Homo sapiens: one gene and its partners. The protein of the gene in region 6 purifies or fractionates together with the protein of the main gene of each other region. This does not show direct contact. Each region holds a gene or a part of one and is shown on either strand. Other genes may lie near its edges. The genes, in order: ING2, PHF12, CTNNB1, DNTTIP1, ARID4B, HDAC1 and MIER3.

Evidence for each region.
Region 1: the proteins of HDAC1 (region 6) and ING2 purify together in Homo sapiens (affinity purification with mass spectrometry; 8 studies listed by BioGRID and IntAct, with this or other methods). This does not show direct contact.
Region 2: the proteins of HDAC1 (region 6) and PHF12 purify together in Homo sapiens (affinity purification with mass spectrometry; 8 studies listed by BioGRID and IntAct, with this or other methods). This does not show direct contact.
Region 3: the proteins of HDAC1 (region 6) and CTNNB1 purify together in Homo sapiens (affinity purification with western blotting; 6 studies listed by BioGRID and IntAct, with this or other methods). This does not show direct contact.
Region 4: the proteins of HDAC1 (region 6) and DNTTIP1 purify together in Homo sapiens (co-immunoprecipitation; 8 studies listed by BioGRID and IntAct, with this or other methods). This does not show direct contact.
Region 5: the proteins of HDAC1 (region 6) and ARID4B purify together in Homo sapiens (co-immunoprecipitation; 8 studies listed by BioGRID and IntAct, with this or other methods). This does not show direct contact.
Region 7: the proteins of HDAC1 (region 6) and MIER3 purify together in Homo sapiens (co-immunoprecipitation; 5 studies listed by BioGRID and IntAct, with this or other methods). This does not show direct contact.

The regions. Positions count from the first base shown.
Region 1 is NC_000004.12:183,509,741-183,513,652, forward strand, and holds the end of ING2 (inhibitor of growth protein 2), read left to right. Parts: intron 1-541; coding exon 542-1,212; 3' UTR 1,213-2,689; downstream 2,690-3,912. UniProt on the Homo sapiens protein: Seems to be involved in p53/TP53 activation and p53/TP53-dependent apoptotic pathways, probably by enhancing acetylation of p53/TP53. Component of a mSin3A-like corepressor complex, which is probably involved in deacetylation of nucleosomal histones.
Region 2 is NC_000017.11:28,909,404-28,914,379, reverse strand, and holds part of PHF12 (PHD finger protein 12), read left to right. Parts: intron 1-342; coding exon 343-501; intron 502-1,102; coding exon 1,103-1,898; coding exon of another isoform or gene 1,899-1,924; exon of another isoform or gene 1,925-2,236; intron 2,237-3,142; coding exon 3,143-3,268; intron 3,269-4,010; coding exon 4,011-4,154; coding exon of another isoform or gene 4,155-4,345; exon of another isoform or gene 4,346-4,976.
Region 3 is NC_000003.12:41,229,101-41,234,076, reverse strand, and holds part of CTNNB1 (catenin beta-1), read right to left. Parts: intron 737-4,976; coding exon 633-736; intron 549-632; coding exon 210-548; intron 1-209. UniProt on the Homo sapiens protein: Key downstream component of the canonical Wnt signaling pathway.
Region 4 is NC_000020.11:45,804,655-45,809,630, forward strand, and holds part of DNTTIP1 (deoxynucleotidyltransferase terminal-interacting protein 1), read left to right. Parts: intron 1-491; coding exon 492-550; intron 551-651; coding exon 652-712; intron 713-4,459; coding exon 4,460-4,531; intron 4,532-4,976. UniProt on the Homo sapiens protein: Increases DNTT terminal deoxynucleotidyltransferase activity (in vitro). Also acts as a transcriptional regulator, binding to the consensus sequence 5'-GNTGCATG-3' following an AT-tract.
Region 5 is NC_000001.11:235,166,402-235,168,790, reverse strand, and holds the end of ARID4B (AT-rich interactive domain-containing protein 4B), read left to right. Parts: intron 1-138; coding exon 139-266; 3' UTR 267-1,889; downstream 1,890-2,389. UniProt on the Homo sapiens protein: Acts as a transcriptional repressor. May function in the assembly and/or enzymatic activity of the Sin3A corepressor complex or in mediating interactions between the complex and other regulatory complexes.
Region 6 is NC_000001.11:32,318,922-32,323,897, forward strand, and holds part of HDAC1 (histone deacetylase 1), read left to right. Parts: intron 1-4,976. UniProt on the Homo sapiens protein: Histone deacetylase that catalyzes the deacetylation of lysine residues on the N-terminal part of the core histones (H2A, H2B, H3 and H4).
Region 7 is NC_000005.10:56,934,178-56,939,153, forward strand, and holds part of MIER3 (mesoderm induction early response protein 3), read right to left. Parts: intron 4,841-4,976; coding exon 4,706-4,840; intron 3,522-4,705; coding exon 3,401-3,521; intron 1,575-3,400; coding exon 1,489-1,574; intron 1,324-1,488; coding exon 1,251-1,323; intron 1-1,250.

The DNA of each region.
Region 1 (3,912 bases), on a different chromosome or scaffold from region 6:
TTTTTTTTTTTGAGATGGAGTTTTGCTCTGTCGCCCAGACCGGAGTGCAGCGGTGCGATCTCGGCTCACGGCAACCTCCGCCTTCCGGGTTCAAGCAGTTCTCTGCCTCAGCCTCCCAAGTAGCTGAAATGATGAGGGGCGCCTGCCACCATGCCCGGCTAATTTTTGCATTTTTAGTAGAGACAGGGTTTCACTATCTTGGCCAGGTTGGTCTTGAACTCCTGACCTCAGGTGATCCACCTGCCTCGGCTTCCCAAAGTGCTGGGATTACAGGCGTGAGCCACCGCGCCCAGCCTCTTTTTAATATAGATTAATGAGTATTAGTTTTGTGTTCTTTCTTTTCATTACTTTATTTCTAACTATACTTTCATATTAGATAATGTGGTCTTTGTATGAAATAGTTTTTAATGTATATGTACCAAAGAGGAGTATGGTTTCATGGTTTGAGTTCTAATTTCAATTCTGTAAAAAATAACTACCTTGGAAATGTTGTGTCTGCTAACACATGATAACGTTCTCATTTTTCTTTTCCTTTTTTTAGAAACGTTAAAGGAAATTGATGATGTCTACGAAAAATATAAGAAAGAAGATGATTTAAACCAGAAGAAACGTCTACAGCAGCTTCTCCAGAGAGCACTAATTAATAGTCAAGAATTGGGAGATGAAAAAATACAGATTGTTACACAAATGCTCGAATTGGTGGAAAATCGGGCAAGACAAATGGAGTTACACTCACAGTGTTTCCAAGATCCTGCTGAAAGTGAACGAGCCTCAGATAAAGCAAAGATGGATTCCAGCCAACCAGAAAGATCTTCAAGAAGACCCCGCAGGCAGCGGACCAGTGAAAGCCGTGATTTATGTCACATGGCAAATGGGATTGAAGACTGTGATGATCAGCCACCTAAAGAAAAGAAATCCAAGTCAGCAAAGAAAAAGAAACGCTCCAAGGCCAAGCAGGAAAGGGAAGCTTCACCTGTTGAGTTTGCAATAGATCCTAATGAACCTACATACTGCTTATGCAACCAAGTGTCTTATGGGGAGATGATAGGATGTGACAATGAACAGTGTCCAATTGAATGGTTTCACTTTTCATGTGTTTCACTTACCTATAAACCAAAGGGGAAATGGTATTGCCCAAAGTGCAGGGGAGATAATGAGAAAACAATGGACAAAAGTACTGAAAAGACAAAAAAGGATAGAAGATCGAGGTAGTAAAGGCCATCCACATTTTAAAGGGTTATTTGTCTTTTATATAATTCGTTTGCTTTCAGAAAATGTTTTAGGGTAAATGCATAAGACTATGCAATAATTTTTAATCATTAGTATTAATGGTGTATTAAAAGTTGTTGTACTTTGTCTGTGACCTTAATTTTCTGCACTGAGTTACCAAATATTTCCAACCAGGTAGTCTTCAGATCACCTGATGAAAGGAGCAGGGAACAGGAAGAGGGTGGTGTAAACATTATAAAAATTTCACAAACCATGCCTATTTCATTTTCACTTAAAACTGCAATGTTATTTTTTGGGTAAACACAAAAGTTTCACTAGCATTTTAGTTATACATGCTTAAAAAAATGTTAGATGTAGTGGGATTTCTCTTAAGCATCAAATGATCTTGGGTACTTTAAAATACAGACACTATGCCATTTGAGCTGCTTTTTCCCTAGTCCTATTTATACGTTGGCTTGTTCATCTCTAGTCTTCTAGGAGTTTAAGGAACTGGAGATAAGAGTAATTTGGGATTCCATGTGGAATAATGTGCTCTTATGAGAGTACGTGCTGCTGTCTTTTGCTTAGTAGCATTTTGATCCACTGTCAGTAGCCCATTTGTCAATGCCTTGCTGCTGCTTTGTAGATATACTTAGTCTAGTGCTTAATAAGGGAGTTGTTTTGTGTTTTCTTTTAATTGGGACAGGTAAGAGTAGTTAGCATACCAAAAATATACATTGGCTTACATTGGCAAACTTTGGGTTATATAGTATCACGGCTCAAGGTTGAACAATTTAAAAATACATCTTAATTAATAGTATTTTCCATGTGACCTGCTGCCAGGATGCGTAGCCACAGGCCTATCAGTGGAAAGGGGCATATAGTAGTCTTTAAATATTGCCTTTATGTCAGAGAGTTGTTTTAAATGGTTTTGCTAGTGGTTATTGTTCATTTCTGTCCCAATCAGTGACTATTTTAAATAATAGTGTATTTACTGTCTTAACTTCTAGTATTGGTGCTGTTTGATGTTTTCACATTTAATTAACTTATTTCATCATCATAATGCAATTAATGTATTTGTAAATTGAATTTTCCAAGATTCTGATATTTGAAGGGTAAGCATCTTGATGGATATATGTCCATATGTTTAGAGAAGGTTTTGGTTTTGGGGGCAGCAGATTGACTAGTTCTTTAAATCTGTGTGTAACGTATGTTTTATTCCTCATTTCTTCCTAATCTGATGATCTTGATTCTTTTTGATTAACATGAAAAATCCTGTCTGCTTGTTTTGGGAAAAAAAAATGCTTTTTTTCTCTTCTAGCTCTCCTGTGTGACTTTTAGGCATGTCATTTCACCTTGTCTGGGTGTCAGGTCATTCACCTGTAAAATGAGTTGGCTTAAATATCTCCGAGATTCCTTGGAAATTTCTACTATTTGCACTATAGTGAGGATTTTAATAATGACATGACTTCTCTTTTCATTAATTTTGTCCTTCATTCTGAGGTATAAAGATAGTTTAAAGGTGAGTTTGGAGATGGGTAAATGTGCAATATTTGTTAGCTTCTGTCCTAAGAATATTTGGATTCATGACTAGAGCTAGTTGATTCTATTACCTTTTGAGTGAGAAATGTTAGACAGCATGATTAAGAATTTAGCAAATCCTTTCTCATCACCATAACTTAGCTGAGTTGTAAGGAAATCCTTTTGAGAATATGGCATTTTGTTTTAGTGATTACAACCTTGTTACCAGAATGGAGCTTTTTACTTGACACCATTAAAAATATCAGTATGGACAAAACCCCCAAAGCCTTCAGATGCGACTTACATAGAAGTCACCACTTTTTCATACGTAAATCTGCCTTGGCAGATGGGAGAAAAGAAACGACTTCCTAATAGAAATGCCAAAGTTTGGATTAGACTTGACGGGAAAACGAACCTGGAAAATCCTGGAAGGTGTGCTCTCTTTAAGACCTAATATCTGAAACAGTTTTATGACTTTTTTGTTTTGTTTTCTACACATCTTGGAAATAGAAGTCTTAAGCATGCGTAGCATTAGGACTGGAATTTCTTTTGTTGAGTATTCTGGATCTCATATCATGGTTACCAACTCATACTGTATACACCAGTGGTTCCCAAACTTAACGTTGGAATTACCTGGGAGTTTCAACAAATACTGATATCTGTGCCCCACCCTCAGCAATTGTGATCTAAATTCATTTGGAATGTGGCTTAAGCATTAGAATTTTTAAAAGATCCCCATTATAATATATGGAAATGTTTTGGAACCACTGCCACATTTCACAGTTTTCAACTTATTGAAAGCTGCTGTGGATTATCTACATCCAGATTTATGCAAATCTGAAGCAGATACAGATGCTTATACACACATGAGAGTATCTCCTGCCCCCAGTGGCTCCACCACCAGTGCCTGAATACTCAACATCTGAGTGCTAATTAATGTGCCAGGCACCGTTTTAAGCAGTTGTGGTGTAAAAAGGAAATATCCCTGCTTGTGGACGATACATTCTAGTGGAGGAGTCAGATACATAAAATGTCAGGTAAATTGCTAAAGTGAAAGGAAAACTGAGTAAAGGGCTGGAAATGAATGGAAGGGGGGGTGGCAAGTCTTTTATTTATGGTAATTTAAAAAGGTGTCCCTAAGGAAGTAATCCTTAGAGCTAAGAGCAGAAATAAGGCAGGCAA
Region 2 (4,976 bases), on a different chromosome or scaffold from region 6:
ATCTCTCAGTGACTGCTCACCCACTCCCAAACTTGACACTGAGCAATAAGAACCCAGAGTACCACTCTGAAGCCCTGTCCAGTGCCAGTCTTACACCTTTCAGGCTAAAGCAGAAGACAGAACGCAGTGGTTTCTGTGTTCTGCAGGCCTTAGACCTTGATGAAGGAAAGTGGAGGCCCCACCTGCTATTTCCATTTCTGAGCCTCCTTTTCCTCAGCAGACCCCAGAGTGGATGGTCCCTTGAGCACCAGCACCACAGACAGAACAGCATACCAGGGCAGAATCAACTAGACATGTTGGAACTATCTCCCTCTCCTTCCTCCTTCTATCTATCCTGAACAGGTTCCTGATGCTATAAAATCTCAGTACCAGTTTCCACCCCCTCTCATTGCACCCGCGGCCATTCGGGACGGGGAGCTGATCTGCAATGGGATCCCTGAGGAATCACAGATGCACCTTTTGAACTCTGAGCACTTAGCCACCCAAGCAGAGCAGCAAGAGGTGAGTGAAGGTGGGGCGGGGATTCCAAATCCAACCTTCCTTCTGTGTCACCACAGCTGTTATCAGAAGTAGCCTCAGTGTCATTCTCATTCCAGTCCCCACCCACCCTCATCCTAACCCCTCAAGAGTTGAGTATTCCAGGGGGAACTTCTGGCTCAAATCCCAAAGGCAAGTAAGAGATCTACAAAGGCAACTGGTCTGCTTCTCTCCATCGTTACCCCAGTGCACTGTGAGATGGGCAAATCTATACTGTAGAAAGAGATGAGTAGACCCATAGAGAGGTTAGGTGATAGTGCTGGACATACCACAGGTGCTCGGGGTAATTGCTGAATATTGGTCACAAGTAAGCCTTAAAGGCAGAGTCAAAATGCAGATCCCAAGCTCTGTTGGCCAGAGGGAGTGTTGGCCTGCTGAGGGTACCTATAAGTCTTGCTTGGGAATGGAAATGGAATTCTATCAGGAGTCAAGCACACCCTTTGTGAGCATTCATGATGGGACCTCGGAAACTGCTTGTCAGCTCTGCTGCAGCCCTGGCCACTGTGGCAGGAAGGACCGGCGCCTCTCAGGCTTCTCACCCCCCTCTCCTCTCCTTCCATTGCAGTGGCTCTGTAGTGTTGTTGCGCTCCAGTGCAGCATATTGAAACATTTATCTGCTAAGCAGATGCCTTCGCATTGGGACTCTGAACAGACAGAGAAGGCTGATATTAAGCCTGTTATTGTGACTGACAGCTCAGTCACCACCTCCCTGCAAACAGCTGACAAGACACCTACACCTTCCCACTACCCCTTGTCCTGCCCCTCAGGGATTAGCACCCAGAATTCCCTGAGCTGCTCTCCACCCCACCAGTCCCCAGCCCTAGAGGACATCGGCTGCAGTTCTTGTGCGGAAAAATCCAAGAAAACCCCTTGTGGGACTGCCAATGGGCCAGTGAACACAGAGGTGAAAGCTAATGGCCCACACCTCTACAGCAGCCCTACTGATTCCACGGACCCCCGGCGACTTCCAGGCGCTAACACCCCACTACCAGGCCTCTCACACCGGCAAGGCTGGCCCCGGCCCCTCACGCCACCAGCGGCTGGGGGCCTTCAGAACCACACCGTCGGCATCATTGTGAAGACAGAGAATGCCACTGGCCCCAGCTCTTGCCCCCAGAGGAGTTTGGTTCCTGTCCCAAGCCTGCCCCCTTCCATTCCCAGCTCTTGTGCCAGCATCGAGAACACCAGCACTTTGCAAAGAAAGACTGTCCAATCACAGATAGGACCTCCGTTGACAGATTCAAGGCCACTGGGCTCACCCCCAAACGCCACCCGGGTGCTCACTCCCCCGCAAGCAGCAGGAGATGGTATCTTGGCCACAACAGCCAACCAACGATTCAGCTCACCAGCGCCATCGTCAGGTGAGTGCTGCTCAGCCTTGGGTTGATTTGGAATAATTTTATGCTCTTTCTGGCAAATAAGATTCTAAAAGCACTTATATCCCTGTGAATACTTCAGAGGACTTTGGCCTTTGTATTGTTTGTCTTACTCTCATTTCCGTAATAGAAGAGGAAGCACATGTTAACTTGTCCCGTTTATAAATGGGACTGCTTAGGCTCTGAAAGCTTCAGTGATTTCCTTAAAATGACCTACTGAGTCAGTGGCAGGATTGGAACCACAGCCCAGGTCTCCTGACTCCATCCCATACCTTCCAGGCCTAGGCCTCTGCCTGTTTTGTTCTGTCACCTTAAAAGAAGGCAGGGTGCTCTCTGGAATTACTATGATCAGCCTGAGGTTCTGCGTGATGGCCTCAGTATTGTCAGATCCACACAAAAGAATGGATTCATGCCTGATGCATATTCTCAGAAAGAGTTAATCTGATGAACTTCCATGTCAGGAAGCAGGGCTAGACAGCAGCACTGTCTTTCAGAGGAGCTGTAGAGTGGGATGCCCACAGGGATTGTTCTAGCCCAGAAGCGTGCCCTCAGGCCACATGCCAAAGGGCGGTCCTTCAGGTCTGTACTTGGCCTACTGTGGACCTGCTCTCTCAGCTGTCCCCAGAGAGCACTCAGGACCTTGAAGTTGCTGACCCCAGCATCTGAACCAGGTTTCAGATGCTGCCGGAACCCTCTGTGGTCTCTCCCGTCTGAACTGAAGCCGGCCTCCTAGTCAGCTGGGAGTCTCGGTAACCAGATGATTGTGATTTCTCTGCATGGGAGCCCCTGGTCCCAGGATGGCCCCGCTCCCAGGCTGTTTTCCTATCTCTGTTTATCGCTTAAAACCAGCGTGGGTAGATTCTCCACGCCGTGAGTCATATTTCAGTAGGCAAGAATTATAAGGGCAGGCACTACTTATTTTAAAGTAGAGGCAGCAGGGAGGTGGTCATGGCCCAAAGAATGAAGCTGCCCCACCACTTTCCCCAGAGCAGTGGATTTCAGTGGTTCTCAGTGCTCTGGAGACTCCTGCGTGCCTGGGTGCTTTGTCGTTCCATCTGCCCTTCCTCACCACACGTTTTTAGCTCTAGGAGTTCCAGAGCCTATGGGTTGAGAATCAAGAAGGGAACATCACCTTGGGTCCGAAATCCAGACCTGTCTCAGCAGTGGGGGATTGGACGGTGGGTTTCCCTCAGGCGACGTAAGTAACAGTCTTCCTGCTCCGTCCCCAGATGGCAAGGTCAGCCCCGGCACGTTATCCATAGGAAGCGCTTTAACCGTACCCTCTTTCCCAGCCAACTCTACTGCCATGGTGGACCTCACCAACTCACTTCGAGCATTTATGGATGTCAATGGAGGTGAGTGAATGAGCTGCTGCTGTTCCACCGTTTGCTATGTTGAAGGTGCTATTCCTATACAGCATTCAGCTCATTTCAGAAAGGGAGGGAAGGGACACCTGATCCCAGAGGCCTAGGGGGAGATGGGAATGAGGAGTATCCTTTTGGATGGGGGGGCGGGGTGAAAAAGAAAGCTCCTTCTGTAGCTCTGCCTTCTACATGTGCATATACACATAATCAAAGATGAAGGGAGGACAGAGCCAAGCTGAACCAGTGAGACGAGAACAAAATCACTTTAGGCAGATCACCTGGATTTGCAGAATAAAACTAAGATCCTCACTCCCAAAGGAGGGACCTCATCTGTGGGAAACCCCCAAAGTCCAGGAGAACAGGGACAGATCTTGATCTCTGTGAACACAAGGTGGGTAGAAAGTTCAAGTCTCAATATCAGACATCCAGGCCCTCCCCCACAGACAGGCAAGTGGTTTATTCCACTCTGCCTTTCTAGGGGCACTTTAATTAAAATCAGTCCACCCAACTACAGGAGGCAGCTGCACAGGCTGCATTGGGGCCCATCTCACTGCAAATGGCAAGTGAGATGCCCAGCTGCAGATCCTTGTACGCTCTGCACTCAATGCTGTTTGAGTAAAAATCACTTGGCTGGATTTTAGAAATGCCAAACTATTTGCTCTGTGACCCTGATTTGCTTCCACATTCCACTTCCCATCTCAGCTGCTTTTTAATCTTTCTCTTTGGCTAATAGAAATCGAGATAAATATGCTGGACGAGAAGCTGATCAAGTTTCTGGCCTTGCAGAGAATACATCAGCTTTTCCCCTCCCGGGTCCAACCTTCACCGGGCAGTGTCGGGACACATCAGCTGGCTTCTGGAGGGCACCACATAGAAGGTGCGCATGTACACACCTGTCACCACATCATCAGATCTCCCCTCTACGTGTGCGAATGGTCACCTTGCCTCCATGGAGAATCTGAGCTTCCAGTATCTCAAACCTCCTTGTGTGCTTTTCATGGGCTTAATAAAGCACCATGGTTTTTTTCTGAAGAGAGCAGGAACAAGATGGCAACCACAGCTTTCTGATCAGACTTGGGGAAGTCTGCTGTAACTTTCTTTCATATATAAGTCCACTTCGAGACACAGCAAAGCAGCTACCAGTACCTTTGGGTATATGTAGTGTACTTTCTGCTTACTTGCTTTCAAATATTTGAATTAGAAGGGCTTCCCGACTGAGTGCAGTGGCTCACACCTGTAATCCCAGCACTTTGGGAGGCTGAGGCGGGAGGATCACTTGAGCCCAGGAGTTGGAGACCAGCCTGGGCAACACAGTGAGACCCTATCTCTACAAATAATTTTAAACTTACCCAGGCATGGTGGCATACACCTGTAATCCCAGCTGCTTGGAAGGCTAAGATGGGAGGATCGCTTGAGTCTGGGAGGTCAAGGCTGCAGTGAGCTATGATTGTGCCACTGCACTCCAGCCTGGGTGACAGAGTGAGACCCTGTCTCCAAATAAATAAGTAAATAAATAAATAAAATTTTAAAAAGAATGGCTTCCCAAGAGGGAACTTTTCAAGTTCAAGTTGAGAAATAGAATAACACTAGGCCAACCTTCTGGAAATTTTCCCCAAGTGGTTAACTCTGTTTCAGATATGTCTGAGCATTGGCCATTAAGAGCCTTGCTGCTTCAAAGTGTGGTTCGCAGACCAGCAGC
Region 3 (4,976 bases), on a different chromosome or scaffold from region 6:
CCCACCACACTAAATCTATTGGTATCAACTAAAAGTAGTTCTGACTACACAAACATTTCAGAATCTTACCCCTATCGCAGCCATACTTCCTACTTACTAAGGAATACAATTCCTACTTATTGATCACTATGCTTAGACAGCCATCCAACAGCTAGAGATGCTTCATTTTCAATTCTGCAACAAAGGTAAATTCTACTTTGACAATTTACCTTTATCAGAGGCCAGTGGGATGGTGGGTGTAAGAGCTTAACCACAACTGGTAGTCCATAGTGAAGGCGAACTGCATTCTGGGCCATCTCTGCTTCTTGGTGTCGGCTGGTCAGATGACGAAGAGCACAGATGGCAGGCTCAGTGATGTCTTCCCTGTCACCAGCCCGAAGGACAGTACGCACAAGAGCCTCTATACCACCCACTTGGCAGACCATCATCTTGTTCTTATAATTATTGCAAGTGAGGTTAGAAAGAATTCCAGCTGCACAGGTGACCACATTTATATCATCTGAACCCAGAAGCTGAACAAGAGTCCCAAGGAGACCTTCCATCCCTTCCTATGGAGATAAAAACAGATGGTCAGTACAAGCACATACTCATCTTGACTCTATTCCCATGGCACCAGTTTACTCAGAATTTACCTGTTTAGTTGCAGCATCTGAAAGATTCCTGAGAGTCCAAAGACAGTTCTGAACAAGACGTTGACTTGGATCTGTCAGGTGAAGTCCTAAAGCTTGCATTCCACCTAGAAAATTAAAAAGGATATAAGGCCCTAGTCATTAGCTAGAAGTGCCTATCAATCCTAAATATCTGTTCTAGCCTTAGGAGGTGTCCTTCTGTATTTCCAGAGTTTACTTCCTTTCACCTAAGTATTTGATTTCCTCTCATTTTCTAGAATGTTGCTCAGTTTCCTTCACTTTGCCAGTTCACCTCACTAGTGACAAACTCTCAAATAGCTACTGTTCCTTTCCTAAGCCGAAAAAGCCTTTGTTATCTCCACTGTCCCCCTTAGGTAATATTCTTATTACTCATTTCTTTTCATCCATTCAATCATTTCAAAAATATTTATTCAGTACCAGGTCCTGTTCTGAGCTGCAGATAGACCAGTGAACAAAAATATTCAGAAGTTCCTACCCTCAGAATTTATGATCTAGTTGGAAGAGGCAGAAAAATATACAATAAACTAAAACCATACAGTATGTCAGATGATATTAAAGGGCTATGGAGAAAAATAATGGAGTGGGGCTGCGATTTTAAATAGATAATTAGGTCACCTCACTGTGAAGGTGACATCTGACTAAAGACCTAAAGAAGCTAGGTAAATTCCTGGGGTAAGAACAATCCAGAAAGACGGCATGAAAACACTTACTGTCAGGGACTTTATACAATTCACTGACTACAAAACATGTGTTCCAAGGTTTACAATCTTCCATCCTTTAGGACCCTTAAATGGGGGACATTTACTCTGGCAAAGGAGTATAAATGGAAGCCCAATGCCCACATAGTAGATTAACTTCGCTCATCCATCTTCAACTTAAATCACTTCTGAATGCAGTAAGAGATACTTTTCCTTGTCTCCTTCATCTTTCGGGTCTGTTTTATTTCCTCAGATGAGGTCTATCTGCTGTAATTCTTATGGTACCCTGCACTTCTCCTTCATAGTGTAAGTTACTCCACTTTCCCTACAAGACAAAGATCACCTCTGTTGGGTTCCTTTTTCATAGTAGCTCCAGCTACTAATAGAATGATCTGCGTAAGACTGATGATCAGGATGCTCAGTATTTGTGAAATGACTACCTTCTTTCCCCTCTTTAAGACTTCATTCCCTCCCTTTACATAACTATTAACTCTAAGAGAATGGATTTTAACCCCAGATGTCCATCAGAATGGCCTACAGAGACTTTAAAACACACACATTCTGATTCAGCAGTTCTAGGGTAAAAAAAAAAGTCCCATACAGATGACTCTGTGGCACCTCTACCTCCCCTTCCCTGCTGCCCTTACCCCTATATACTAAGAGGGAAACTTCCAAATCTCTAGCCTGCCTCTCTTGCATTCTAGTATCATACATTTCCAGCTACCTACTGACCTTTTAAGTCACTTTAAGTCAGCTTCTTAAATTATTATGTTCAAAAATTAAGGATGCCTTCTGAGGGTTCCATTTATCTTCATGGTACCAATGTTGTCCCCTCCACAAACCGTTTTTGGTTGCTCCCTTAGCTCCTATATTATTACATTCTATGATTCTTTCAGGCATCTCAGACATCTGCCCTTTGCTATTGAGTTCTAAAAGCAAACTATTTCATTCCTAAAAGCCTGTAACATCTCAGTAGTCTGGTCTTCTAGCTTTTGGTCATTCAAACTGTTAATCTATACAATGCTATTATTAATATTTTAAACACACCACTGTGATGCTTTGCTATTGATAAACAACCATCGAAAGTGTCTCAGCATCCTTTTAAGATAATAGAAATACTTTAGTATAACCCTGAGGAACCGTTTAGAATTTGGATCCCACCTAGCCTTCCAAACTGACCAAAGTATTCTGTATCTATGGCTCCAAAGCTGGAATAAAGCATGAATAAACTCCATGAGTAGTAACTATCTTATAGGAACCTAGAAAGTCCTGCATGTTATGGCTCTGCTTACCTAACCTCAACCTCATACCAGGCCATCCACCTCATTACTAAGTTCTGTTTATGCAGACCTTCTCTTCAGCACCTGGATCTCCACAATCTCTTTCCCTTTTTTTTTTTTTTGAGATAGAGTCTCACTCTGTCGCCCAGGCTGAAGTGCAGTGGCGCTATCTCAGCTCACTGCAAGCTCCGCCTCCCGGGTTCACACCATTCTCCTGCCTCAGCCTCCCAAGTAGCTGGGACTACAGGCGCCTGCCACCACGCCCGGCTAACTTTTTGTATTTTTAGTAGAGATGGGGTTTCACTGTGTTAGCCAGGCTGGTCTCGATCTCCTGACCTCATGATCCGCCCACCTCAGCCTCCCAAAGTGCTGGAATTACAGGCGTGAGCCACCGTGCCTGACCAATCTCTTTCCTTCTAAGGCAAGCTTGTCCAACCTGCAGCCCATGGGCCACATGGCCTAGGACAGCTCTGAATGTAGCCCAACACAAATTCGTAAACTTTCTTAAACATTATGAGATTCTTTTGCAATTTTTTTTTGTTTTAGCTCATCAGCTATCATTAGTGTATTTGGTGTGTAGCCCAAGACAATTATTCTTCTTCCAATGTGGCCCAGGGAAGCCAAAAGACTGGATATCCCTGGTTCTAAGACATAGCACATGGTGTTCCTTTTCTCTACCTGGAAAACGTTTAACCCTCACTTCTCATATAGACAAGAGACGGTTCCCTCTCATCCTGCAGTCCCACTTAACATCCCCTTTTCAAGGAGACCTTTTCCCTCTCATCTAGACAATTCCCCTCCCCATTAATTCTCATCACTATTTGCTGTCATTTCTCCCATAACACTCATTCTAATTTAGGATCACATATTTTTAAGTATTTTTGTCACCTTCACAAGACTAAGAATTAAGCACGGGGACCCTATCTGTTGTGTTACCCAATGTATACTATGTGCCTATTCCATTTCTTAAAATACATTAGATGCTATTTTCAGAATAAACAAATGAACATAAGAATAACCTGGAAGAACTTAAAGATTCCTAAGCTTCCAGTCCCATACATGTCCAGCTATCTACAGACCTCCCTGTCACTTCAAATAAAACACTATGAGATCTTGATATAAAAATTAACACTCCAGGGATTCTGATTAAATAAATCTCAAAATCTGTATTTTTAGCCTACATTACAGGTTACTGCTGGAACAGCTGACAGAATTTACATCCCATCCCCTCATTCTATATGAACTCAGCCACATTTGTCTATCCCCAAGACTATGGTTCCTCTGCCAGTAGTTACCTGGAGCAATCATAATGTCTTTCTCTCTCATAAATTCCCAAGTAAAATTACTCTCAATAAGTGAGAAAAGTAAGTGTTGCCAGCCCTATACTTTATTCCCAACATTTTCTTCCATTAAATGCCTTTATATTTTTCCTTCTTTCAATACTGATTTGAAGCTTGCTTTGAAATTCTGAGTAAATGTTGTTAGGTGGGTTACTGAAAGGAGAAAAAATGCTTGGTAGCTAAAAAGTAACTGTTTTCATGACACACACACACACACACACACACACACACAGAACCCAAGAGGCCCTAGTACAAACCATCTATTCTTTTCCCCAATTGCCAACATACACAATATACAAAGTACCACATATAAGTTGCCTTCTTAAAAATACTCAGAATAGAAAAAAATTGTTTCTCATACTTAGACGACATCTATTCACTGAGAATACAGAATATCAGGGCAAAACACTGCTCATAATCAGGCAAGAGAAAGAAAATGCATCCAAATAGGAAGTCTGTTTGCAAACAATATGATTCTATACCTAGAAAACCCCATAATCTCTGCCCAAAAGCTCCTTGATCCAATAAACTTCAGCAAAGTTTCAGGATATAAAAATCAATGTACAAAAGTCAGAAGCATTTCTAGACACCAACAACATCCAAGCTGCAAGCCAAATCAAGAATGCAATCCCATTTACCAAAGCCACAAAAAGAATAAAATACCTAGGAATACAACTAACCAGGGAGGTGAAAGATCTCTACAATGAGAATTACAAAAAACACTGCTCAAAGAAATCAGAGATGACACCAACAAATGAAAAAACATTCTATTTCATGGCAGGAAGAATCAATATTGTTAAAATGGCCATACAGCCCAAAGCAATTCACAGATTCAATGCTATTCCTACCAAACTACCAATGGCATTCTTCACATAATTAAAAAAAAACTATTTAAAAATTCATATGAACCCAAAAAAGAGCCTGAATAGCCAAGGCAATCCTAAGCAAAAAGAACAAAACTGGAGGAATCACTTTACCCAACTTCAAGCTATACTGTTAATACAAGGT
Region 4 (4,976 bases), on a different chromosome or scaffold from region 6:
TCTCTGTTAGCAGCACAGAATTACTAGTAGTTTCTCCAGCAGGCCAAGCTGCCTCTCACCTGTCTTTGCTCATGCTGCCCCCTGTCTGGAATGCCCTTGTTCCTGACCCCCTTTACCCCAACTTGTGCTCACCCTTTCAGAATTAACTTGGGAAATGCCTCTCTAAGGAAGCCTTCCTGGCTGGACCCTCCCCTCGGCAGCCCTCAGACCCTGCACTCACTTGTGTCCTTGCCTCATCGCACAATGGTGTAATTATCTGTACATATGTTGGTGGCATCCTAGAAAACAGAGACTGTATCTTATTCATCTCTTTATCCCCAGTATCTAGCACAGACAGGGCCTAGCATATTGTGAGTACTCAGTGTCTTGGGTCAACTGTTGATTAAATAATAGACAAGGGGAAGGGTTAGAAAAGGGTAGGGGGAGGAGTGTTTCTGTCCTACCCATCAGATTAAACTTCACCCTCACGAGCTTCTCTATTTTTTGCACAGTGGGACCCAGCTCGCCTGAATGAATCTACCACCTTTGTGTTGGGATCTCGAGCCAACAAGTAAGTTTAAGAGCTTTGGCACTGATTGAGGAAACAGCTCAGGAGTTCACTAGTAGGACTACACTTTCTGGAATCTTGACCACTTGGCTTTTACTTTTCAGAGCCCTGGGGATGGGGGGCACCAGAGGAAGAATCTACATCAAGCACCCACACCTCTTTAAGGTAGGTGACTGCTGGGAGGAAAGCAGGCCATTGCATTGGGAGTAGACTGGGAACTCCACTCAGCACAGAGAAGCTTAGAACAAACACTGATCTTGGAGTCAGGACATCTGGGTTCTAGTTGTGCCTCTGCCATTCACCTTTCCCTTTCATGATTTACTCAACACCTCTGTGCCTCAGTAATAACAGCTACTTTGCTTGCATGCTTACTGGGTGCCAAACACAGTTTTAAATCCCACACTTATATTATCTTAAAAAATAAGTATTGCCATCCTTATTTCACAAATTTGAAACAATCAGAGGTTGAGAAAGGCTGAGTGACTTGCCCACAGTTATTCAGCTAGAAATGGTGAGTCAGGATTCAAATCCAGGTCTGTCCTCACCAAAGCCTGAGCTCTTAACCACTACCATATTTGGTTGTCTGTAAATTAGAGTTTGGGCCAGGTGCGTGAGCTCACACCTGTAATCCCAGCACTTTGGGAGGCCAAGGCGGGTGGATCACCTGAAGTTGGGAGTTCGAGACCAGCCTGACCAACATGGAGAAACCCTGTCTCTACTAAAAATACAAAATTAGCTGGCATGGTGGCTCATGCCTATAATTCCAGCTACTCAGGAGGCTGAGGCAGGAGAATCGCTTGAACCCAGGAGGCGGAGGTTGTGGTGAGCCGAGATCACACTGCCCTCATATTTGCATTTTAAAATAACTCTGGGGTCTGGCACAGTGGCTCACGCCTGTAATCCCAGCACTTTGGGAGGCTGAGGCTGGCGGATCACCTGAAGTCGGGAGTTCGAGACCAGCCTGACCAACATGGAGAAACCCCGTCTCTACTAAAAATACAAAAATTAGCTGGGCATGATGGCGCATGCCTGTTATCCCAGCTATTCAGGAGGCTGAGGCAGGAGAATCGCTTAAACCCAGGAGGCAGAGGTTGCAGTGAGCCAAGATCTCACCATTGCACTCCAGCCTGGGCAACAGAGCAAAACTCCATCTCAAAAAAAAAAAAATAGAGTTTGGAGCAAGGCAGGGTCCTGTGCCTTTTCAAAGAGGGTACTCCTCTTCTGAGAGCAGCTATGTTTTGGTCCCCACTGTTTGAGGGAATAATGGAGGAAATCATAAACTCACTCACCCTCTTAGATGATTTTGTATTTTATCAGTCACGAGAGCATCGAAGTAGATTAGAAGAATAGCAGTGCATGTGTGTTCCACACATGGTTTTTTGCACTTATACGTAAGGCTTGGCACCTCTTGCCAGAACTGCACAGCCCTGTGGGATCCCAGAATCACGGGCTTTCTCTACCACATTCTGTGCAAGTTTTCAAGTTCTTTGAAAGGCATACCTGCTCACGCTTCTTCTCCAGTCTGATATCCTCGAGTCCCAACACTTAAACAGTTTGCCCAGTGGCTCCTTTGTTTTCCTCTCTTAATGTCGTCACTCTTGCTATTCCCATTGCCTGGGTGGCCTTTCTCTCCCACCCTTATCTGCCTGACTATTCTTTAAGATCCACCTCCTCCAAGAGCTTTGTTTGTATCATCCCCAAAATCAATATGCTTTTGGACCTACTTTGAATTCCCACTTCAGCGTGGTTTAAAGTATGGCTTCAGGCCTGGTTCCATTATTTTACTAGCTGCATGAACTTGAACAAATGGCTCCACATTTGTTTTTCTTTTTTCTTTTTTTTTAACTAGCTCAAGTCTGGGAATTGATCCACATTTCTGAGTCTGTTTTTGTCCTGTATAAAATGAGAATAGTGATAGACCAACCATTTTTTTTTTTCTGAGACGGAGTCTTGCTCTGTCACCCAGGCTGGAGTGCAGTGGCGCGATCTCAGCTCACCGCATCCTCCACCTCCTGGGTTCAAGCAATTGTCTGCCTCAGCCTCCCGAGTAGCTGGGATTACAGGTGCCCACCACCATGCCCGGCTAATTTTTGTATTTTTAGTAGAGATGGGGTTTCACCATCTTGGCCAGGCTGCTCTCAAACTCCTGAGCTCAGATGATCCACAGCCTCAGCCTCCCAAAGTGCTGGAATTATAGACTTGAGCCACTGCACCTGGCCCAACTTTACAAATTCTCTATTAGTGATTATAAGTATCTTTTCAGTCATTTAGAATCTATTTGTATTTCTTCTGTAAGCTGCCTGTTATATCTTTTGCCCATTTTTCTCTCCTTCAGAAGGCATTATTCAAATTCTTTTCCTTTTTTAAATGTTTTGATTATAGAAATAATATATAAACCCATTCCCGTGGTAAAAAGATTCAGACGATACACAGGAGGTAGTAGAGAGCAAAACACAGTTTCTCAGCCAGGTGCAGTGACTCACGCCTGTAATCCCAGCACTTTGGGAGCCCGAGGCAGGCGGGTCACCTGAGGTCAGGAGTTCAAGGCCAGCCTGGCCAACATGGTGAAACCCCATCTCTACTAAAAGTACAAAAATTAGCCGGGCATGGTGGTGCACTCCTGTAGTCCTAGCTACTCTACTCGGGAGGCTGAGGCAGGAGAATTGCCTAAACCCAGGAGGCAGAGGTTTCAGTGAGCCGAGATCACGCCACTGCACTCCAACCTGGGCGACAGAGCAATACTCTGTCTCAAAAAATATATATATCAGTTTCTCTTCACTCCTCGATTTTTTTTTTAAGGTGCTTAAATTCTGGTTTCTAGGTGCCCAACCTAGAATAGAAACCAGAATTTAAGCCTTATTTGGGTTGAGCACAGTAGCTCATACCTGTAATCCCAACACTTTGGGAGACTGAGTGGGTGGATCAGTTGAGGCCAGGAGTTCAAAACCAGCCTGGCCAACATGGCAAAACCCCATCTCTACTAAAAATACAAAAATCAGCTGGGTGTGTTGGCACGTGCCTGTAATCCCAGCTATTCAAGGCTGAAGCAGAAGAATAGCTTGAACCCAGGAGGTGGAGGTTGCGGTGAGCCAAGATCATGCCACTGCACTCTAGTCTGAACAACAGAGCGAGACGTCATCTCAATAAATAAATAAACAGCCAGGCACGGTGGCTCACACCTGTAATCCCAGCACTTTGGGAGCCCGAGGTGGGCAGATCACCTGAGGTCGGGAGTTCAAGACCAGCCTGACCAACATGGAGAAATCCCATCTCTACTAAAAATACAAAATTAGCCGGGCGTGGTGGCGCATGCCTGTAGTGCCAGCTACTTGGGAGGCTGAGGCAGGAGAATCGCTTGAACCCAGGAGGCGGAGGTTGTGATGAAGCAAGATCATGCCATTGCACTCCAGCCTGGGCAACAAGAGTGAAACTCCGTCTCAATCGATCAATCAATCAATCAATCAATAAACCAACCAACCTTATTTGTAACTCCAAAACCGAATTCTTAACCATGATGCTATTATGCGTCCGAGAGTACATGAGGTGTCCCGATTTTTGTTTTATTATGGTCACCATAATAATTACAGACGTTATAAGCCACCTCCGATCATTTTTTAAAAAGAGGAAGCTCTAAAATAATAGTTATCAGTCCCACCAGTTGCCCGGGGTGCTTTGTTGTGAGAAGGGGGTGGGGATTGGGAGTATACTAAGTCTCTGGGAATTGGGTCCCATGGTCTGCCCTCGGGGTTGGCTTAGCTTTCTCTGAAGAGATTAGTGAGCCCTCTAAGTCCACCACGCTTGGAGACAAGGACTTTTGGTAAGAACTGCTCAAGGGCCAAGAGTATGCTCTGGGACCAAATGAGAAAAGCCCCTTACCCGAGGCTAATTTTCTTACAACTTCATTCCTTACAGTATGCAGCTGACCCCCAGGATAAGCACTGGCTGGCTGAGCAGCATCACATGCGGGCAACAGGGGGCAAGATGGTAAGCATTATTCATTTGTGCCACTGCCAGTGACCCACCCCACCTGGGAACCAGGATTTTGGCTGTGGGTGACAGCCTACCTCCAAATCTGACTTCCAAAGCCTCACCAATGTGTGAGAAGAGAGACTTATAAGGCCTATTTCTTCATGCTGAAGAGCAAATTGTAATCTTCAGGTTCCCTTCCCTATCCCTAGGTCTCCCTTCCGCCCCCTCACACTTTTACCTCATGCCTCCAAGATCACATATTTGGATACTATTAGCTGTCCATAGGAATAGCAGGTATAAGACACACAGTACTACTTTTTCCCACTACTGCACCCACTGACAGATTTCACTCATTGATCACTCTTCCACCAGACACAGCTATAGAATCTTTTCTCAACACAGTACTTGAGGCAGCAACCCTTGTCAGTAGGAGTTAGCAATGAAATGTGTTTGCACACTT
Region 5 (2,389 bases), about 200 Mb from region 6:
GAGAATTGACCACTGTTGTTGTAAGCTAAATGATTTTGGACAATATAGCGGAATTTTAGTTCAGAGGACTAGTATTTTCTGTCTATTGTTAGACATAAATTTTTATTAAGCTCTTGGTTTGGTCTCCCTTTTCCTTAGGTGCTGCTACATCCTCATCCTCCTCTTCACCTTCATCCAGTTCCATAACAGCTGCTGTTATGTTAACTTTAGCTGAACCGTCAATGTCCAGCGCATCACAAAATGGAATGTCAGTTGAGTGCAGGTGACAGCAGGACTTGCTAAAGCACTTTGCACTTAATGGCTGTTGAGGGCCACTTTTTTTTTATACTGCACAGTGGCACAAAAAAATATCAGACAAGCACTATTTTATATTTAAAAATTGTTTCTTGACAAGCTGACTTGGCACTTAAGTGCACTTTTTTATGAAGAAAAAGTACAATGAACTGCTTTTCCTCAAGCAATAATTGTTTCCAACTTGTCTGGGAATTGTGTGTCTGGTAACTGGAAGGCCTTCCACTGTGGCAAATGGAGGCTTTTCACTGCCTGTAGAGACAATACAGTAAGCATAGTTAAGGGGTGGGTCAGAACATGTTAAGATAACTTACTGTATATGTATTCCCTTGTATTTTGTTAAAGCTGGAACATTTGATATTTTTCCATTTATTTATGAAAAAATATGAACCTATTTTCATTTGTACAAGGTAATTGTTTTTTAAAGCAAGTCACCTTAGGGTGGCTTTAATTGTATAAGTCAAGCACATGTAATAAATTCAAAACCTGCAGTTAACAGGATATTAGACATCAATCCTGGTAACCAAATATTAAAGATTCTCTTTAAAAAAGACTGAACATGTTTACAGGTTTGAATTAGGCTAAAAGGTCTTGCAGTGGCTTTTCATGGCCCTTCAAATTGGAATGGAACTACTGTACTTTGCCATTTTTCTATAAATCAGTATTTTTTTTTAATTTTGATATACATTGTGTGAAAAAAGAAAATGGCTAATAAACTGTATTAAATCTTAAACAATGTATAAAGATTGTACTTAGCCAGTTCAAAGTGTATATTTATTCATAATGAATTATAACAGTTATATTTTTGTGTTTTCTTGTAAATGTTTCTTTTCCCTTAAATACAGATAATTCATTTGTATTGCTTATTTTATTATGAGCTACAACAAAAGGACTTCAGGAACAAGTAATGTATTAGTATGGTTCAAGATTGTTGATAGGAACTGTCTCAAAAGGATGGTGGTTATTTTAAATATAAATAGCTAATGGGGGTGGTAGGCCTATAAAATTAAATGCCTTGTATAAAATCCAAAATGAATGCAAAATTGTTTTCACTTGTATTGACTTTATGTTGTATGATTCCAATCTCTGTTCTGTTTGGCACTTGTATTTAATTCTTCACCTTTGTAAGACATTTGTATATTGTGGATGTGTTCATTCAAGCTATTTAATATCTGGCACTGTTAATACACAGTACTTTATTGTACAGACTGTTTTACTGTTTTAATTGTAGTTCTGTGTACTTTTTTTGGATGGGGCTGGCATGTTTTCTTTGTTTCCTGGCAATACGACGTGGGAATTTCAATGCGTTTTGTTGTAGATGCTAACGTGTCAGAATCCTTTACATTCAACTTTTCTAAGAAAAGCATTTTCAGTCTTGTAGTGTGTGCTTACAGTAACTAATTTTGTTGAAAATGGTTTCAAGTTATTCAAATTTGTACAGGACTGTAAAGATTTGTTGACAGCAAAATGTTGAAGAAAAAAGCTTATAGAATAAAAGCTATAAAGTATATATTAGGATCTGCAAACAATGAAGAATTATGTAATATATTGTACAAATGTAAGCAAAGGCTCTGAAATAAAATGCCATAGTTTGTGAATCCTTGATTTTTGTTTCTAAAAGATTTAGTAATTTTAGTTCATTTCTGTATGTGATGACTGACTGGAACATACATATCCAGCACGTATTATCACAGGGGATTAATTGATACACAAAAAAAGGAAGATTCTACCTATGAAAATTAAAAGTCCATTAATCAGATAAGGAATGTATTAGGCATTCTTTTTTTTTTTTTTTTTTTTGGACACGGAGTCTTGCTCTGTCACCCAGGCTAGAGTGCAGTGGCGCAATCTCCAGCTCACTGCAACCTCTATCTCCCGGGTTCAAGCAATTCTCCAGCTTCAGCCTTCCGAGTAGCTGGGATTATAGACATCTGCCAGCACTCCTGGCTAATTTTTGTATTTTTAGCAGAGACGGGGTTTCACCGTACTGGTCAGGCTGGTCTCAAACTCCTGACCTCATGTGATCCACCCACCTTGGCCTCCCAATGTGCTGGGATTACAGGCGGGAGCCAACACACCCAGCCTAGGCATTCTTTTA
Region 6 (4,976 bases):
CAGCCTGGCCAACATAGTGAAACCCCATCTCTACTAAAAATACAAAAATTAGCTTGGTTTGGTGGTACATGCCTGTAATTCCAGCTACTCAGGAGGCTGAGGCAGGAGAATTGCTTGAACCCAGGAGGCAGAGGTTGCAGTGAGCCAAGATCGCGCCACTGCACTCCAGCCTGGGCGACAGAGCGAGACTCCGTCTCAAAAAAAAAAAATTCAGTCTGGGTGCCTATAGTCTCAGCTACTTAGGAGGCTGAAGCAGGAAGATTTCTTGAGCCCAGGAGTTCAAGGCCAGTCTGGGTAATATAGTGAGACCTGGTCTCTAAAAAAAATTTTTCTAATTAAAATAATTAGGTCTTGGATTTTTCTGTCATCAGAAATGGGGGCAGGAAGAATAAGCCTCTCTAAGAACTTCAGAGTACCTCACTGAGTTGATTTGTAGGGTTATGGAGGGTCAGAGTAGACAGAGACTTTAGATGTCACTTAACACAGTGCTTTATAACCTGGGGTATCTACCAAGACAGTAATGAGCCCTTTTTAAAAAAAGAATTATTTTTATTTTTATTCTTGTTTTTAGAGATGGGGTCTTGCTTTGTCATCCAGGGTACAGTACAGTGGCAAGATCATAGCTCACTGCAGCCTCAAATTCCTTAATCCTTAACTTGCCCTTTTAGAATATGTACCAATATCTAACCTAGGCGCTGGACATGGTAGCATGCACCTGTAATGCCAGTGCTTTGAAGGGCAAGGCAGGAGGGATAGCTTGAGGCCAGGAGTTCAAGACCAGCCTGGGCAGCATAGTGAGACCCCCATCTCTTATTTTATCTTAAAAAAATAAAAATAAAAAATTAGTTGTGTATGGTGGCACATGCCTGTGATTCTGGCTACTCAGGAGCCTGAGGCAGGAGGATCCCTTGAGCCCAGTTCAGGGCTGCATTGAGGTATGGTCTCATTTCGCCACCACACTCCAGCCTGGGCAACATAGCAAGAACTCGTCTCAATAAAAAAAAAACACACATGGCCAGGCGTGGTGGCTCATGCCTGTAATCCCAGCACTTTGGGAGGCCGAGGTGGGCGGATCACGAGGTCAGTACATCGAGACACCATCCTGGCTAACACGGTGAAACCCCGTCTCCACTAAAAATTTACAAAAAATTAGCCGGACGTGGTGGCAGGCGCTTGTGGTCCCAGCTACTCGGGAGGCTGAGGCACCAGAATGGTGTGAACCCGACAGGCGGAGCTTGCAGTGAGCCGAGATCACGCCACTGTACTCCAGCTTGGGCGACAGAGCGAGACTCCTTCTCAAAAAGAAAAAAAAAAAAACCCACACACACACAAAAACATCCCACACACCTAATCTAGGAAGTTATGCTTATGATAAGATCGAGTAAATCAGGTTTCCTTGCTTGTGGCTGAAATGTAATAAACCCTTTCTGGTCACTTTGAGAGCCTTGACCAGAAGTTCTGACCTAATATTTAGCAAGTGAAAATGGGAACACAAATAAATGCATTTAGGGGGCTTTTGGTGAAAACATGATAAAAGGGATTGGTAAAAAATTGGGAGACATTCTCATCCATTTTACAGACATGTAAACTTTCCCAGTCACACAGCAAGGTGATGGTAGAATGCAGAATGGAACTCTAGTCCCCCAATTCTGTAGTTTTAAAAAATATAGTGTATATAAAATATTTTAGATACACAGGCCAGGCAGGGTAGCTCATGCCTGTAATCCCAGCACTTTGGGAGGCTGAGGCAGGTGGATCACTTGAGGCCAGGAGTTTGAGACCAGCCTGGCCAGCGTGGTGAAACCCTGTCTCCACCAAAAGTACAAAAATTAGCCATGTGTGGTGGTATATGCCTGTAATCCCAGCTACTCGGGAGGCTGAGGCATGAGAATTGTTTGAACCTGGAGGGCAGAGGTTGCAGTGAGCCAAGATCGCGCCACTGCACTCCAGCCTGGGCGACAGAGCAAGACTCCATCTCAAAAAAAAAAAAAAAAAAAAAAAACAGAAAAAGAAAAAAACATATTTTAGACACACACAAAAAGCATCAAAAAATAATATAATGCACTTTGGGAGGCCGAGGCGGGCAGATCACGAGGTCAGGAGATCAAGACCATCCTGGCTAACACAGTGAAACCCCATCTCTACTAAAAATACAAAAAATTAGCCGGGTGTGGTGGTGGGTGCCTGTAGTCCCAGCTACTTGGGAGGCTGAGGCAGGAGAATGGTGTGAACCCAGGAGGCGGAGCTTGCAGTGAGCTGACATTGCGCCACTGCACTCCAGGCTGGGCAACAGAGCAAGACTCTGTCTCAAAAAAAAAAAAATAATAATAATAATATAATGAACATCCATGTGTGCCCAATACCCAGCCTGAGAAAGAAAACATTATCAATACAGTTGATGCCCCCTTGGGCATCTTTCCTTGATCACATACCCTTTCTCTCCCACTCCCCCAGCCCCCCACCCCATTACCAGCACTGCCAAGGTATAAGCACTATCCTGAGGTTAGTGTTTAATCTTCCCATCTCTTTGCAATGAGCATTTGACTGCCTTCTCTGCCTACGTCTGCTTCCACCTCTCACCCAGTATTGCTTCCCTTTAGTCTAAAGCTAGTGTGAGAATGAGAAAAGCGTTTATAGCAGAAAGAGAGAAAACCCATGGAAAAGTCTTCCCTACCCTCACAGATTAGCTCACATGAGTATCTGCTCTTCCATTTGCCCCCTTTCCATCTCTAATCACATAGCTTATTGACTAGGAATAAAAGGGCTGGTCATTTGAGCTACATGTTGGTTTGGTGCCTGAAGAAAAATATTTTTTTTTTTCTCACGTCCAAAACACCCATTCCTTCCCATGGAGGCTCCATATCCCAAATAAGAGTATAAACAAAGCTTTGGAAACGCAGGCAGGCCAAACTCTGTGCAGGAGGAAGTGGCCAGAGAGGGAAATCAGTTGCCAATGGATAAACAGCCGGGGCCCAGGGACCAAAGTTCTTATTTACACAGCCTCCCAGTGTTTACCCAGGAAGTGAGGAAGAGACCCACCCGCTGCACACTCCCTCATGCAGCCATGCTTCTTCCTCAGAGCACCGGATCTTGGCACCCTCCAAGTTTAGTGCAGAACCAGAGCTGGTAACTCTTGTGGTTATTGTAGATCTTGAGCTTCAACTGTGTCTTGAGATTTTACCAGCACAATCCAAACTGAGCTCTTCTGCTCTCACCCCAGGGCTGCTCCTTCCTCTACTTTTGGAAATCTTGATAACAGTGGGTACAGTAGAAGGCTGGGCAAGAGAATAAGTATGCAGCCCCACACCTCCTGCCTCTGACTTCCTGTAGCTCATTGATGTCTCAGCAGTTACTTTTTTTTTTTTTTTCTCCTGAGATGGAGTCTCGCCCTGTCACCCAGGCTGGAATGCAGGGGTGCAATCTTGGCTCACTGCAACCTCCACGTTTTGGGTTCAAGTGATTCTCCTGCCTCAGCCTCCTGAGTAGCTGGGATTACAGGCACATGCCTGGCTAATTTTTGTATTTTTAGTAGAGACGGGGTTTCTCCATGTTGGCCAGGCTAGTCTTGAACTCGTGACCTCAAGTGATCCACCTGCCTTGGCCTCCCAAAGTGCTGGGATTACAGGTGTGAGCCACCGCGCCCGGCCAGTAGTTACCTTTTCTGTAAGAGGAGATTTGGAGCTATAAAGTTCCTCTAGGTCTGTGAGTCTACAGCCTCCAGGTGTGCTTTCCTTCCTGTTTTCATTTCATTTGCCTTATTGTTTGCATATGTTTCCACATTATGTACTACTTGGTACTTTTACCCCATTAGGCCCGAAATAACTTTACTCCACTTGTCACTGTGAATGTAGCAGTAAGACACTGGGCTACGGGAGTCAAGACACCGGGACCCTGATTCTGGTTCTGCTACTGCCTGGTTTTATAACCTTGGGCAAATCACTTAACTTCTCGGTATCTGTTTGTTCCTCCGCACAGTGGGGTTGATATCTGGCTTGTCCAGCTCATAGAGTTGTTGTGAGGATCAAATGAGGTTGTATATGTGAAAGGACTTGGAAAAGGGCCGGGATATATTTTCACAGGCTTTTAAGACAGACAGGCTGGCTGGGCACGGTGGCTTATGCCTGTAATCCCAGCACTTTGGGAGGCCGAGGCGGGCGGATCACAGGGTCAGGAGTTTGAGACCAGCCTGGCCAACATGGTGAAACCCCGTCTCTACTAAGAATGCGGAAATCAGCCAGGTGTGGTGGCAGGTACCTGTAATCCCAGCTACTCGGGAGGCTGAGGCAGGAGAATGGCTTGAAACTGGAGGGCAGAGATTACAGTGAGCCAAGATCACTTCACTATACTCCAGCCTGGGCAACAAGAGCAAAACTCCGTCTCAAAAAAAAAACAGACAAACCAAAGCTTGAGGCTTGCATACTGCTTCTGCCATTTACTAACAGCTCACCTCTCTGAACCTGTTTCCCTACTTATTTATTTATTTATTTTTTTGAGACAGGGTCTCACTCTTGTCTCGCCCAGGCTGGAGTGCAGTTGCGCGATCTCAGCTCACTGCAACCTCTGCCTCCCGGGTTCAAGTGGTTCTTGTGCCTCAGCCTCCCAAGTAGCCGGGATTACAGGCAGCTGCCACCACACCTGGCTAATTTTTATGTTTTTGGTAGAGATGGGGTTTCTCCATGTTGCCCAGGCTGGTCTTGAACTCCTGGCCTCAAGTGGTCCTCCTGCCTTAGCCTCCCGAAGTGCTGGGATTACAGGTGTGAGCCACTGTGCCAGGCCTTGTTTCCCTACTTATAAGATGGGACCAAATCTTACCTCAGAAGCTTGTGTGAAGATGAATGATCTCGGGTATTTAACGCATGTAGCGCAGTGTCTGGCGTGTTGTACGTGCGCAGTGAACGATAGTTCTCTGGGTCTCTGTTCTTGCCCCTTGTTTGTCAGCTGGCGTGAGGGCCAGAGGATAAGTTTTTCTCCCTCAA
Region 7 (4,976 bases), on a different chromosome or scaffold from region 6:
ATAAAAATAATTTACCGAGAACACACTACCAGATACCAGGGACCATGATAAGGGCATTATCATCCCAACTGTAGGAGGCAGGCATTGTCATTGCCAGTTAGAAGGAAAGTTAAAAATAAAGTGTGCCTGTGAAGCAGTAAGACTTGACTTTTGAGAGAAGTTCCTAGAACTTTCTTTACTCTTTGGTCACAAGTGAAATAGGTAAAACAATTTGGGTTTATTCCCTCAAAAGACAGAGAAAGTACACCTTCCCTCCAATCTGCAGCACTGACAGAATATCACCTCTACTATGTGTGACCTAAGGACCTACAGTTGCTGAGTATGTACTTGGCTCAAAGGCCAAGTGTGGCATTTGGGTGGTGAGGTGAGAAGGCTGGCACATCTGAACATCATCAGCTATGTTTTGCTTCCCCTGGGATAACTGTCTTTTAACACTTTGAAAGCAGTTTAGGAAAACGGTGTTCCTAGTGGCTGCCATGGCTAACAACCCCAGGGTAACCACTCCTCCCCTCCTTTAAATGGAGGATGACCTGGCATGGAGGAAAGGAAAAAAGAAGGACTCAGGAAGTATTGTGTTGGGTGCTGCTTTTGCCCTTGTGACTTCACAAGGATAAATCAACTTAGGGAAAAGGCCAAACACCCATGGAAATATTCCCAAGTTCAACTAAGAAGGTTTACCTATATTTTTATATCCTACTACCTTATCCCCTCCATATTTTGAAAACCAACTACAGTTGGAATGCACCAAAAACATGAGGAAAAACTGATTACACATAATTAGGAGTATACAAGTGAAAGCAGATCCTTACATTTCACTTCCTGCTCTTTTGGGGCTGGGGAAGGAGAATTTCTTCCAGTCTCTTTTTCCCTCAAGAGTTTTCTTTCCAGAAGATTATATCTTAACATTCTCATTATCTCAGGTGATGAGATCCTACCCACTTCTACTGAAGCAGGATGAAGGCCAAGGTACAGCACCGTGGGAGGCTCCCCATTATTCGAACAGGCACTGAGCACACTGGCTAATAAGCACTATGTGTGCCTTGGGCAGGGTTGGGGGTGGGGGGAAACTCTGAGTCTAGTGATTAACTTTGATACATTTTTCCTAAGTCAGGCCTAAAAATCCTAACTCTGCATGTTTCCCAAATCTATCTATCTATTGCCAAGGCTGGTATAAAGCCAGATATTTAAATACACTTATCAAGTGGTAACCTTATCTACCAAACATTATCAAAATCAAAAGCTTTCCTTACCTTTCTCATTACCATCGTACTCTCCAAGATAAGGGGGAATCTCTGCCTGATATTGTAAACCAATCATTATTTCCTACAGGAAAATTGAGAGGTAAAAATAACTTATTAAAAAAAAAATACTGAAAAAAAGCCCCATATCATTAATCAGTTTCTACAAGTCAAAACAACAAAATTATCATAAATCATTTCAGAAATATTTTTAAAAGCCAATTTAGTCCACTATATTAACTCAGCTTACCTTCCTCAAATCTTCAGGTGAATTACCACTGTCTGTTTCAACATCTTCAACCTCTGATTCCTTATCACCATCACATGCAGTATTTGCTTAAAAGACAAAAATTAAAAAGGTTTTTACTGCCTATTTTTGCAGAACCTGGAAGAATGCCTGTTGTATTTTACAAAATGTTGTTAAATATGTGAGATCAGCATAAGTATACTAAACCACCTGCATGTTTCTCACAATCGACATTGGTCAAAATGAGACACTGAAAATCCTAATAAAGTGTATAGTATCCTGGCCGGTGCAGTGGCTCTCATGGCTGTAATCCTAGCACTTTGGGAGGCTGAGGTGGGTGGATCGCTTGAGGTCAGGAGTTTAAGACCAGCCTGGCCGACAGGCTCTACTAAAAATACAAAAAAATTAGCCGGGCGTGGTGGGGGGTGCCTGTCATCCCAGCTACTCGGGAGGCTGAGGCAGGAGAATCGCCTGAACCTGGGAGGCAAAGGTGGCAGTAAGCCAAGATCACGCCATTGCACTCCAGCCTGGGCAACAGAGTGAGACTCCATCTCAAAAAAAAAAGTGTATAGTATCCTGATAATTATTATGGTATACTATTAAATAGTTTGGGAGGTAAAAGGAAACCACTGTGGTCACCTTAAAAAGAAAGTAAAACACTGGAGTTCTGATTATACTAATCCAGGAGATACACACACAGAGTTGCATATCAGGTCCATCAAAACTGTTTTTGTACACACACGAATGCATGGATATTTGAACTTATTGACCAAACAGTTCTTCTATCATAAAAATACCTAAAAAAAAAAAGTGAGATTGCATCTAAGAAATTATTTTAGTCCAAACATTTTATTTATTTATTTTTAGAAACAGGGTCTCACTCTGTCACCCAGGCTGGAGAGCAGTAGCCTGTTCATGGCTCCCTGTGACCTCAAAGTCCTGAGCTTCAGTGATCCTCCTACCTCAGCCTCCCAGATAGCTGGGACTACATGTGCATGCCACTATGCCCAGCTAAGTTTTTTATTTGAAAATTTTTTTGTAGAGACAGGGTCTTGCTATGTTACCCAGGGTGGTCTAGAACTCCTGGCCTAAAGTGATCCTCTCATCTCAGCCTCCCAAAGTGTTGCAACCACACAACCAACCCCAAAACCTTTTAAATATTACTGATAAACATTAAGAGGTAACACCAAGAACTAATAGGAAAAAGATGAATCATTAAAAGTAAAAATACCTTTTGAGCACTGATAAGTTTTCAAAACCAGGAGAGCAGGAGCCTTTTAATAGAAATTCAAATAAAGGTCTATAAAATTTTGTGGTCAAACTAAGAATGATTACCATAGCAACAGATGAGTCTTGAGAAGGAAAATGGCCTTGTAAAAATAAAGTCAATATTTCCATTTTTATTTTATCTTATTATTATTATTATTATTGAGACAGAATCTCTCTCTGTCACCCAGGCTGCAGTGCAGTAGCATGATCTCCAGCTGGCTGCAACCTTCACCCCCAAGGTTCAAGTGATTCTCGTGCCTCAGCCTCCCAAGTAGCTGGGATTACAAGTGCATGCCACCACACCTGGCTAATTTTTTGTATTTCTAGTAAAGAACAGGTTTCACCATGTTGGCTAGGCTGGTCTCAAACTCCTGGCCTCAAGTGATCTGTCTGCCTCGGCCTCCCAAAGTGCTGGGATTACAGGTGTGAGCCACTGCACCTGGCCAAATATTTCAATTTTTAAATGGCATATTAGTTCACCTCTATCCCAAAAGAAAGGTTATAATCTTGTTTAAATTATAGAAGTATTTTATCTCAACCACATAAAATATTAGAATATTCTGACACAAATTACTGAACACAATAAAATGTACTAAAGCTACAGTATCAATGTTACTATTTATCAGTAATCCACTGGGTTTCTTACATCGTAAAGGCCTAGGGAAGAAATCAGAAGTTTCATGGGAAGTCACAGATGGCGTCAGATCATCCGCAGAAGACTGAGTTTCCTCGTCATCACCTGACAACAGGTCTTTTGCTATTTCCTCCTGGAAGAATAAGAAGGCAGTGCTACAGTTAGAAATGATTACATCTCATTAATTAAGAAAACTATCTTTTTATAACATATCATTAAGAAGCAGTTGGAACCTTATGAGAGAAATATGAAATTCTCCTATGATTTACTTCATGTACATAAATATTTAATATTATATATTATATAATATTCAATAATATACTATTAAATGATAATCAGTGCAACCATATACTAAAACAATTGCCTAATTTGTGGGTATGCAGAGAGCTTATCTAAAGCTGTAGGCTAATTTTTAGTGAATTTACAACAAAAACAGTCTGACTTTTAAGTGGTTAACAATTATATTCATTTTCTGTCAATAATAAAACTGAAAAAATGCCTCCAACCTCCACTCTTCCAATAATTTAAAAGTCCGACTAATGAACAGCACTGACTACTGACATAATTTTAAAAGAAACAAGTTTGAATTAATTTTTATGTAAGTATACAGTCATCCTTGTGCCTAGCACAAAGTAGCCACTCAATAAATACTTGTTGAATGACTATGGTCATTAAGGTCTGTGGTACATTAATATCACATTGACTTAAAAGTGGGAACAATATAACTCACAGGAAGAGGTTCCAAGATGTGGATTCCTCTCCCTGCCTGAGATCTGAAAGGCAAGGAAAGGTTCCCAGGGATCTGTTAGCAGAGGCCATGGCCGTGTGAATTTTCCTCAGCAGGGACTAGGCCTCCCCACAACCAGCCTACGTTAGAGATGGATCACCGCGGTCTTGGCTGCTGCGGCCGCTGTCACTCCCAGAGCCAAGAAAACAGAACTTCTCTCCAACCACTCCACGCCTAAGCCAGCTTGGTTTGAAGGCTTCTGGGGGATTTATTAATCAAGGCTTTTATGTGTTTATAGGATCAAAAGAAGTTAAGGCAAAATCTAAGTTTAGATACAATGTGTCTACACAGGAAAGATGAAAACATTATGGGAGAATATTCAGGCATGCAAAGTACCATGAAGCTGCTATTAATACTACTCTTAACATAGGGTGATCAAAGCCAAACAAAGTTTAAATCAGCCACCAAAATAAGCACAATGGGTCAACAAGAAGTTTACATTTAAGAATTATTAAATAATACTTTAAATGGAAGTAAAAGCAGTCAATGGTAACAGACCCTGAATTTTTCTTTCAAATGCTCACACTTACTTTGTCTAGTGTCATGTCTGGTAGTTCATCTGCCAGTTCACTTGGGGAACTATTTGCACTGGAATTTGCAACTGCTGGAATTGTAGGTTCATAGCCATAGAATGCCAGTAAATCTTCTAGAGGCATGGTTCCTTCCTGTTCAAGCCAGGGCATAAACACGGACTCAGCAGATGTCACAATACTGAACTGCAGGTAAACTGTACTGTCCTTAGGTTCAGAAAGCACATTATCAAAACAGCAGAACAAATCAAAGGCAAGTTTCAGTTTTTCT